Linked DNA regions of Homo sapiens: region 2 is linked to region 1. The links come from fine-mapping of genetic effects on gene expression. A gene starts in region 1. The other region holds a variant in brackets. All regions are shown on one strand. Distances are between the middles of the regions. Region 1 holds the start of BRWD3 (bromodomain and WD repeat domain containing 3). Region 2 has its middle 34 kb from the start of TENT5D.

The links. PIP is the estimated chance that this variant, and not a neighbour inherited with it, causes the effect. A credible set is the group of variants that fine-mapping cannot tell apart.
Region 2: its variant is the best candidate, but not a certain one, in a credible set for the expression of BRWD3 in sigmoid colon (GTEx, PIP 0.60).

What each region holds. Positions count from the first base shown.
Region 1 is chrX:80,808,189-80,812,566 of GRCh38, forward strand. BRWD3 (bromodomain and WD repeat domain containing 3) reads right to left here and starts at 1,689. Exons shown (of 41, transcript NM_153252.5): 1 at 1,253-1,689; 2 at 1,058-1,116; 3 at 825-854; 4 at 351-410. The coding sequence starts at 1,283. It overlaps LOC124905202 (a long non-coding RNA gene), which reads left to right and starts at 620. Exons shown (of 2, transcript XR_007068278.1): 1 at 620-1,105; 2 at 3,923-4,378. RefSeq lists an enhancer at 1,924-2,003.
Region 2 is chrX:80,384,463-80,388,855 of GRCh38, forward strand. It overlaps a transcript of TENT5D not described here. Among named protein-coding and RNA genes, the nearest start is that of TENT5D, 34 kb to the right of the region's middle. The variant G/A (reference allele first, on the strand shown) is at 1,865.

The DNA of each region.
Region 1 (4,378 bases):
CCAGCGTCAGACCTTAGTACGTGCCCCAAGATAACCCCTTGGTTTCTCTCCCTTTTCCGCCTACAATGGGCCTTCCCCAATGTTTGTAACATATTCATAATCCACAACACGGCACCTCTGATAATCAACTCACATTCTTCAAAGTTTTCGGGTGGAAACAAGCAGGGCCAAGGGGAGGGCAAGGTACCCTTTTTCCGACTAGCAGGGATGGGGGAAGGGGCAGTCGTTCTTTGGCTCTGCACCGAGCTCTAGAACCTCGTCGGCTGAGAGGTGGGGGGCGGGTTGGGGGTACAAGGTGGGGAGGGAGTGGTGAAAGAGTTAGGTTAAGTTGAAATGAAAACTTTACTCACCAGATCCTCGAAGCTTCTTCGGTGCTCTTTCCCCTCCCAATCTAAGCGGCGCGGAATCAGCTGGGGGCCGGACGAAAAGAAAGGGGGAAGCGGAGGCAAATGATGAAGGAAAAGCCTCCGCTCCCCATCAACTGGACCCAACCTGTGTCCCAGTCCTCAACACTTTACCGTCTTTATTTCTCTCGGCCTGATAGCTATTGGCTCAGAGCTAGACAAGTATATGGGGGGGGGGGGGAAGGGGGGTCGAGAAGGAAATCCTGAAAAACTGCCTCCCACAAGCATAAAGCGGGGACGAGTTAAGACCCCAGCGTTGTCTGCCCCTTTTGAGGGAAGAAGCCAATTCACCCCGGTGACAACAGCTACGGGTACCCAGATCGAAGCCTCTATCCCAGCCCGTCTTCCGCCCCTGACTTGCCCTCCCCTTCCTCCAGTCTCACCTCAACCCTCCCCACCCTTCCCGAAGGGGCTCCGTACCTGATGCTCCTCGAGCTCCTGCACTAGCACCTGAGCAAAAGGGAAACACAGATATGAGGAGCAGCTCGGGCCATCAACCCATTCCTCCCTCCACACTTAAAGCCCAGCCGCTGACCGTTTGACTAGTCAAGGCCGGCCTTTCCCTCACCCTCAACGGAACTGCTCGTCCCGCTGCCTCGATTTCCCCACTGGGACCATTCACCACGACTCCCAGATCTCTTTCTTCCCCTTACCTGAGCGGATTTGTTGCAGGGTCCAGACTGCAAGAACCTAGCGATCAGGTAATACAGCTCTGGGGAAGAGGGGGGAAAAGAGGTTCAGAGGGAGGTAGAGAAGAGAAATAGAAGCTTTTTCAAAAGAAACTGACAGCCTTCGCGCTAAGCCCCCATTCCCTTAGCACCCCCCCACCCCCCGACACAGCTACCCACCGGCTTCGATCTGGGTAGGTGCTGCCGCCATCCTTTTCCCGAGGGGGTTTGGGGGCTTCGCTCCGGAGGGGCTGGCGGGGGCGGGTGGGGGCGCTGCCTCTATTGTGGTGAAGCCCCCATGCCCGGGAGTCCCGCCGCTTCCGCCGCACTCCTCGTCCTAGTTTCGCTCTCTCTCGAATTCATCGCATCACGTTTCGACCCATAGATATTCTAGCCCAAGAGCTGAGGAGGCGGAGGAGGAAGGAGAGGAGAGGGAGAGGGAGAGAGAGAGTGAGTGAGTGAGAGAGAGAGAGAGAAGAGAGAGAGAGAGAGAGGAAAAAGAGAGAGAGAGAGAGAGAGAGAGAGAGAGAGAGAGAGAGAGAGACGCGGGGGGTGGGGGGGCGGAGAGAGAGAGAGAGAGAGAGATAGACGGAGCGAGAAGAGGGAGGAGCCGAAGTGGCGAAGAGGTGGGCGGGGGCAAAGGGGGTGGAGAGAGGGGAGGGTAAAAATGGTGATAGGGTTTTGCAGCGCTCATAGTTCCCCGCTAGAGGCACTAATACAGCAGCTGAGCCTAGACTCTCCCGGAGCCCGATGGTTGCTTAGCTACAGCTCTGGGAAGGAGGGGGAGGTGCTAACTGACGGCCGACGCTCTGGCAGCCGCCTTGGAACTCTGTGGTGGCATTCGCGTCTGCGAGCTCCGGAGTGACTTTCCCTTCCTGTGAAGGCAATCCGGCCCTTTCCGGTGGAGGACCCTTCCCCCTGGGTTGATCTTGAGGAACTTAAGAGACGGTGTTTTGACTCGACTCCTTTCCCCTTTTTCCTCCCGGTACCAAAGCGGTTTTGTTTGCTGTTTATACTCTACCCCGTGGAAAGGCGGCTAGCTGGCTAAAGGGTTTTATGCCTGGGGGAGGATGAGTCGCTATTTGGTCGTGACTTGTTTCTGTTTAAAATTATTATTATTTACCAAATGAAAATGTTGTACTTACCAGTCCAAAGTGCGGGGCTTATATTGTTAGAAGACCACTTAAAATGCTCCTGGATTCTGACAAATATTGCATGAGAAATTTGCAATCAGCCGTGAAGCATGTTTCCCCTTCTGAAAGTTTAACACGTGCCGTATCTACGGCTGGGATCTAACACATCCCATTCCTACAGGGTAATTTCCTATTGTGTTTTCAAATACTACTAAAGTACTTTAACCAAGAGTTTTCAATAATCTTTATGTATTATTGCCTATCTCTATGCAAGGTATCAATAGTTTTCTACAGGTTCGGGACTACACTGTTTAATATATAACCCCAACCCTTGGTACCGCACTGACCTTCAGTATTTGGTTGCTGAAATCTTCAATGATGAAAGGGGTTGGTATGATAATTGACACAGATTAGTAAACCGGGTCCTTTTCTTCCCTACTTTCCCGTAACATCCTGTCCCCACCCCACTCCCTCACCTAAACCTGATGAGACCAGAAATGCATTTTAAGTTGCATGTATTATTTACATTGAAATATTACAATTTGAAGGTTCATCTAAATTTAAGGCTATATTCTTGGGAATTGGGTTTCCTCACTCAGCTCTGCCACTGACCACAGTGGGCCTTGAATTTCTAAGTTGACATAAACTTAGCCTAGGTTGATTAGCTCTCACTTGTAATTTTTTTTTTTCCTCAGAAAGCAATAACCACAGGAGGTAATTGTGAAGTGATAGGCTTATCTTTGGTTGTTATTGCCATGGAACTTGACAAAACAAATATGAATAATTGATACAACAAAATGATATAAAAAGATACATGAGACCTAGACAACTCATTGCAAGTAGTTTAGCAAAATACCAGACTGAATAATTTTATAGTTGAAGTATAATGTACAGGTTGAGTATTCTTTATCCAAAGTGCTTGGGACCAGAAATGTTTTGGATTTTGGACTTTTTCAGATTTTGGAATATTTGCATATACATAATGAGATATTTCAGCTATAGGACCCAAGTCTAAATTTGAATTTCATTTGTTCCATTTATACCTTATACACATAGACTGAAGATAATTTTATATAATATTTTCAATAACTTTGTGCACGAAACAAAGTCTTGACTGCCTTTTGACTGTGATCCTCCACTTGAGGTCAGATGTGGAATTTTCCATTTGTGGCATCATGTTGACACTCAAAAATTTTGGATTTTGGAGCATTTTGAATTTTGGATTTTTAGATTAGGGATGTTTGACCTGTATGTAACAGTTAACACTTAACAAGCCATTATCATGTCCTCAGCACTTTTACGTGCTTACCTCATTTAATCTTTACAATGACCCTAGGAGATAGGTTCAATTGTTATTCTCATTTTACAAATGATAAAAATGACTATGAATTTGGTCCACTCACAGCCTGTGAACCTCATTCCTCACCTGTAAAATGTGAATAATAAATAGTATTTGCCATGTCTACTTCAAGGAATTGTTATAAAATTCGTGTGAAAATGTATTTGTGTACTCTTTCAAAATTTATGTGGCAGTTATTCCATGATCACCTCTGTATCAGTCAGTTCAATTATTAATGATAACAGGAAATTGGAATAATGAGGGCTTAGCTAGCAAGAAGTAAAGAGAACTCTAAATACTACAGATGTAGCAGGTATATAATAGTAGATATGATAGCCACTACCCCTGGAACTGAGATAAAGCATTCTCTTCCCTTAGCTGAGATCCAGACCTTCTTAGAGAGAACACAGCCAGTGGAGAGTCACTCTATGGCAGGAAATATTCTGTATTGCCTTACAGGCAGAACTTGCTGAAACTCCAACCTCTGGAAATTACTGGAACCCTGCATTCTAGAACTTGCTGGAAACCCACCCTCTGGAATTGGCCTGCTAGAGTGCCTGAGAAGGATGTTCATAGGGAAATGTTTCAGCAGAGGAACTCTACTACAAAAACCACAAGAGGGAGGGTGCCAGGGGAAGTGGCCTGGTGCTATTGAAACTGCAACACAGAAGCCAGCCACTGGAGAGAGCTGCACAAGCTGCAGGAACACCCTACCCAGTAAGCCGGCCAGAAGGAGGGAGCAAAACCTTTTCTCTCTGCAACATCTTTCCAGTTTCCTCTACTGGAAAAGCTTCATTGCCAGCTGACAAAAGGAAAAATACTTAAATGGATCAG
Region 2 (4,393 bases), 420 kb before region 1:
GTACCATACTGAATGGGCAAAAACTGGAAGCATTCCCTTTGAAAACTGGGACAAGACAGGGATGCCCTCTCTCACCACTCCTATTCAACATAGTGTTGGAAGTTCTGGCCAGGGCAATCAGGCAGGAGAAAGAAATAAAGGGCATTCAATTAGGAAAAGAGGAAGTCAAATTGTCCCTGTTTGCATATGACATGATTGTATATCTAGAAAACCCCATTGTCTCAGCCCAAAATCTCCTGAAGCTGATAAGCAGCTTCAGCAAAGTCTCAGGATACAAAGTCAATGTGCAAAAATCACAAGCATTCTTATACACCAATAACAGACAAACAGAGAGCCAAATCATGAGTGAACTCCCATTCACAAATGCTTCAAAGAGAATAAAATAGGAATCCAACTTACAAGGGATGTGAAGGACCTCTTCAAGGAGAACTACAAACCACTGCTCAATGAAATAAAAAAGGACACAAACAAATGGAAGAATATTCCATGCTCATGGATAGGAAGAATCAATATTGTGAAAATGGCCATACTGCCCAAGGTAATTTATACATTCAATGCCATCCCCATCAAGCTACCAATGACTTTCTTCACAGAATTGGAAAAAACTACTTTAAAGTTCATATGGAACCAAAAAAGAGCCCGCATTGCCAAGACAATCCTAAGCCAAAAGAACAAAGCTGGAGGCATCACACTACCTGACTTCAAACTATACTACAAGGCTACAGTAACCAAAACAGTATGGTACTGGTATCAAAACAGAGATATAGACCGATGGAAAAGAACAGAGCCCTCAGAAATAATACCACACATCTACAACTATCTGATCCTTGACAAACCTGAGAAAAACAAGAAATGGGGAAAGGATTCCCCATTTAATAAATGGTGCAGGGAAAACTGGCTAGCCATATATAGAAAGCTGAAACTGGATCCCTTCCTTACACCTTATACAAAAATCAATTCAAGATGGATTAAAGAGTTAAATGTTAGACCTAAAACCATAAAAACCCTAGAAGAAAACCTAGGCAATGCCATTCAGGACATAGGCATGGGCAAGGACTTCATGTCTAAAACACCAAAAGCAATGGCAGCAAAAGCCAGAATTGACAAATGGGATCTAATTAAACTAAAGAGCTTCTGCACAGCAAAAGAAACTACCATCAGAGTGAACAGGCAACCTACAGAATGGGAGAAAATTTTTGCAATCTACCCATCTGACAAAGGGCTAATATCCAGAATCTACAAAGAACTTAAACAAATGTACAAGAAAAAAACAAACAACCCCATCAACAAGTGGGTGAAGGATATGAACAGACACTTCTCAAAAGAAGACATTTATGCAAACAAAAGACACATGAAAAAATGCTCATCATCACTGGCCATCAGAGAAATGCAAATCAAAACCACAGTGAGATACCACTTCACACCAGTTAGAATGGTGATCATTAAAAAGTCAGGAAACAACAGGTGCTGGAGAGGATGTGGAAAAATAGGAACGCTTTTACACTGTTGGTGGGACTGTAAACTAGTTCAACCATTGTGGAAGTCAGTGTGGCAATTCCTCAGGGATCTAGAACTAGAAATACCATTTGACCCAACCATCCCATTACTGGGCATATACCCAAAGGATTATAAATCATGCTGCTATAAAGACACATGCACACATATATTTATTGCAGCACTATTCACAGTAGCAAAGATTTGGAACCAACCCAAATGTCCATCAATGATAGACTGGATTAAGAAAATGTGGCACATATACACCATGGAATACTATGCAGCCATAAAAAAGGATGAGTTCATGTCCTTTGTAGGGACATGGATGAAGCTGGAAACCATCATTCTCAGCAAACTATCACAATGGCAT[G/A]TTCTCACTCATAGGTGGGAATCGAACAATGAGAACCCTTGGACACAGGAAGGGGAACATCACACACTGGGGCCTGTTGTGGGGTGGGAGGAGTGGGGAGGGATAGCATTAGGAGATACACCTGATGTAAATACCGAGTTAATGGGTGCAGCACACCAACATGGCACATGTATACATATGTAACAAACATGCACATTGTGCACATGTACCCTAGAACTTAAAGTATAATAAAAAAAATAAAAATAAAAAATCTAAAAAAATAAAATAGCAAAACTTGGTAAATTTCACTTCAAATTTTAGTTGTAGGATCGTTATTAATAAAGATAACTCAGTATACAAGGAGGAATTTTTCTTCCTACCTATCCTTGCCCAGTGTGGATTCAGAAATTAAATCATTTTAATTTTGTGAACTGCTTAATGAATCAATTTAGAGAAGATTAGGTGTTTGGTTCATATGAAAACAAAATCAACAGGGCACTACATGAAAAACTGCATATTGAAAAAAACTAGAGTTTAGCTGTTCAATTCTTATGTGAGAAGACAATGGGGAAAAAACCAAAGTGCTAAAATGCTAAGAAAAATTAAAATGTTCAATCTACAATTCCGGACCAACCAGCCTCAGTCATTTGTAGTCCTCTAGAGATCCAGTAAGCATTTATCAACTAAAAGGAAAGAAAAAAGGTAAACAACTCTTATCAAAATGGATAATTTCATAAGTATGCAAAGCTACTCTGTCTTGATCCATGGTGAGTAAAACTGGTTGTTAAATAACTAAGCATAGTTTACATCATGTGGCAGCTTTAAGTATCGAAGTTCCCAGATGAAGAATGCAGACAGTTCCAATGTCAAAGATTGCAGCCAAGGGTCTTCTTAGGGGGCACATCTCCCTCCATGGGATTGGTTCCTGATGCCTTATATACCTTTTGTAGTGCGGTCAGATTTTACTGGTTGCTCTTGATGCTTGTAGATATCCCCCAATTTCTGGGCATTGCAGAGTTAGGTATTTATTGTAGTCTTCATCGTGTGGGCTCATTTGTATCTATCCTCCATGGGAAGGTTTTCCAGATATTCGAAGGAACTTGGGTGTTGTGATCTAAGTTTTTAGTTACTGAAGCCTTATCTGTGCTAGAGAACACCCCAAGCCCAGTAACACTGTGGTTCTTGAAAACTTGTATTATGTACCAGCTTGCTGGTCTTGGATATGATCTCAAAGTATTATCTGGATTACCAGCCAGAGACTTTTGTTCTCTTCCTTTACTTTCCCCGAAACAAAGTCTCTCCTTGTGCTGAGCTGTCTGCAGCTGGGGGCGGAGTGACACAACCCCCGCTGTAGTCACCACCACTGAGACTGCCCTGGGTCAAACCTGAAGCCAGCATAGCACTGGTCTCACCCAAGGCCGAGTATAACCACATCTGGCCACCGCCTATGTTTTCTCAAGGCCTTAGGTCTCTACAGTAAGCAAGTGGCGAAGCTGGCGAGGCTTCTGTCCTTCCCTTTAGGGCAGCAAGTTCCCATATTCCCCAGGCAGGTCCAGAGAACCAGGGTCTGGAGTTGAAAACCACATAAATATATTCTATTCTGTATTCTACTATGGCTCATCTGGCACCCAAACCACAAGACAAAGTCCTTCCCACTGTTCTCTCCTCTTTCTACAGACAGAGCAGTCTCCCCTGCTGGCCACCACTTCCCCAGGCCCACAGGGAATACTTCCAGGATAACACTGATGTTCATTCAAGGGCCAAGGGCTCTTCATTCGGTTTTTGGTGAATGCTTCCAGGCCTGGGACTCAACCTTCAGGGCAGTGAGCTACCCTCTGGCCCAGGGAAGGTCCATAAATGCTGTCCAAGCGCCAAGGCCTAGAATCAGGGACCCAAAGAGCCTGCTTGGTGCTCTCCCACCAAGCTGTGGCCAAGCTCACACCTAAGCTGCAAAACAAAGTCCCCTTTGCTTTTCCCTCTCCTTTTCTCAAGCAGAGGGAGTCTTTCTGGATAGACACCACAGCTAGGAATATGCTGGGTCACAACTAAAATCAATGTGTCACAGAATCTCACGCAAGGCCCATGATGTGTACTGGCCAGCTACCACTGCTGATTAATCAGGGCTCAAGGGCTCCTTAGTCAGCAGATGATTAATCCTGCTAGGACAGGGCCCTTCTCTTCAAGGCAGCAAAGTTCCCTTCTGGCCCAGTATATTTCTAGAAATGTTGTCCAGGTTCTGGGGCTTGGAATGTGAGCCTCACAACTCTGCCTGCTCCCCTATCCTACTGTGGCTGAGCTGGTGTCCAAGTTGTAAGACAAAGTTCTATTTATTCTCCCCTCTCCTCCTCTCAAGGGGAAGGAACAAGTCTCTCCAAGAATTGCTAGTTATACTGCCTGCGGTTGGTAGAGAGGTGGTGCAATTACTTACTTGGCTGCTGCAATTAGTGTTTCATGTTCCCCTCAACCCCCAAATCCACTGGCTCTGAGGTCAGCACACCGGGACCTGCCTAGGATTTGCAGTCCTTGTGATGTAGACTGCCTTTCAAGTTT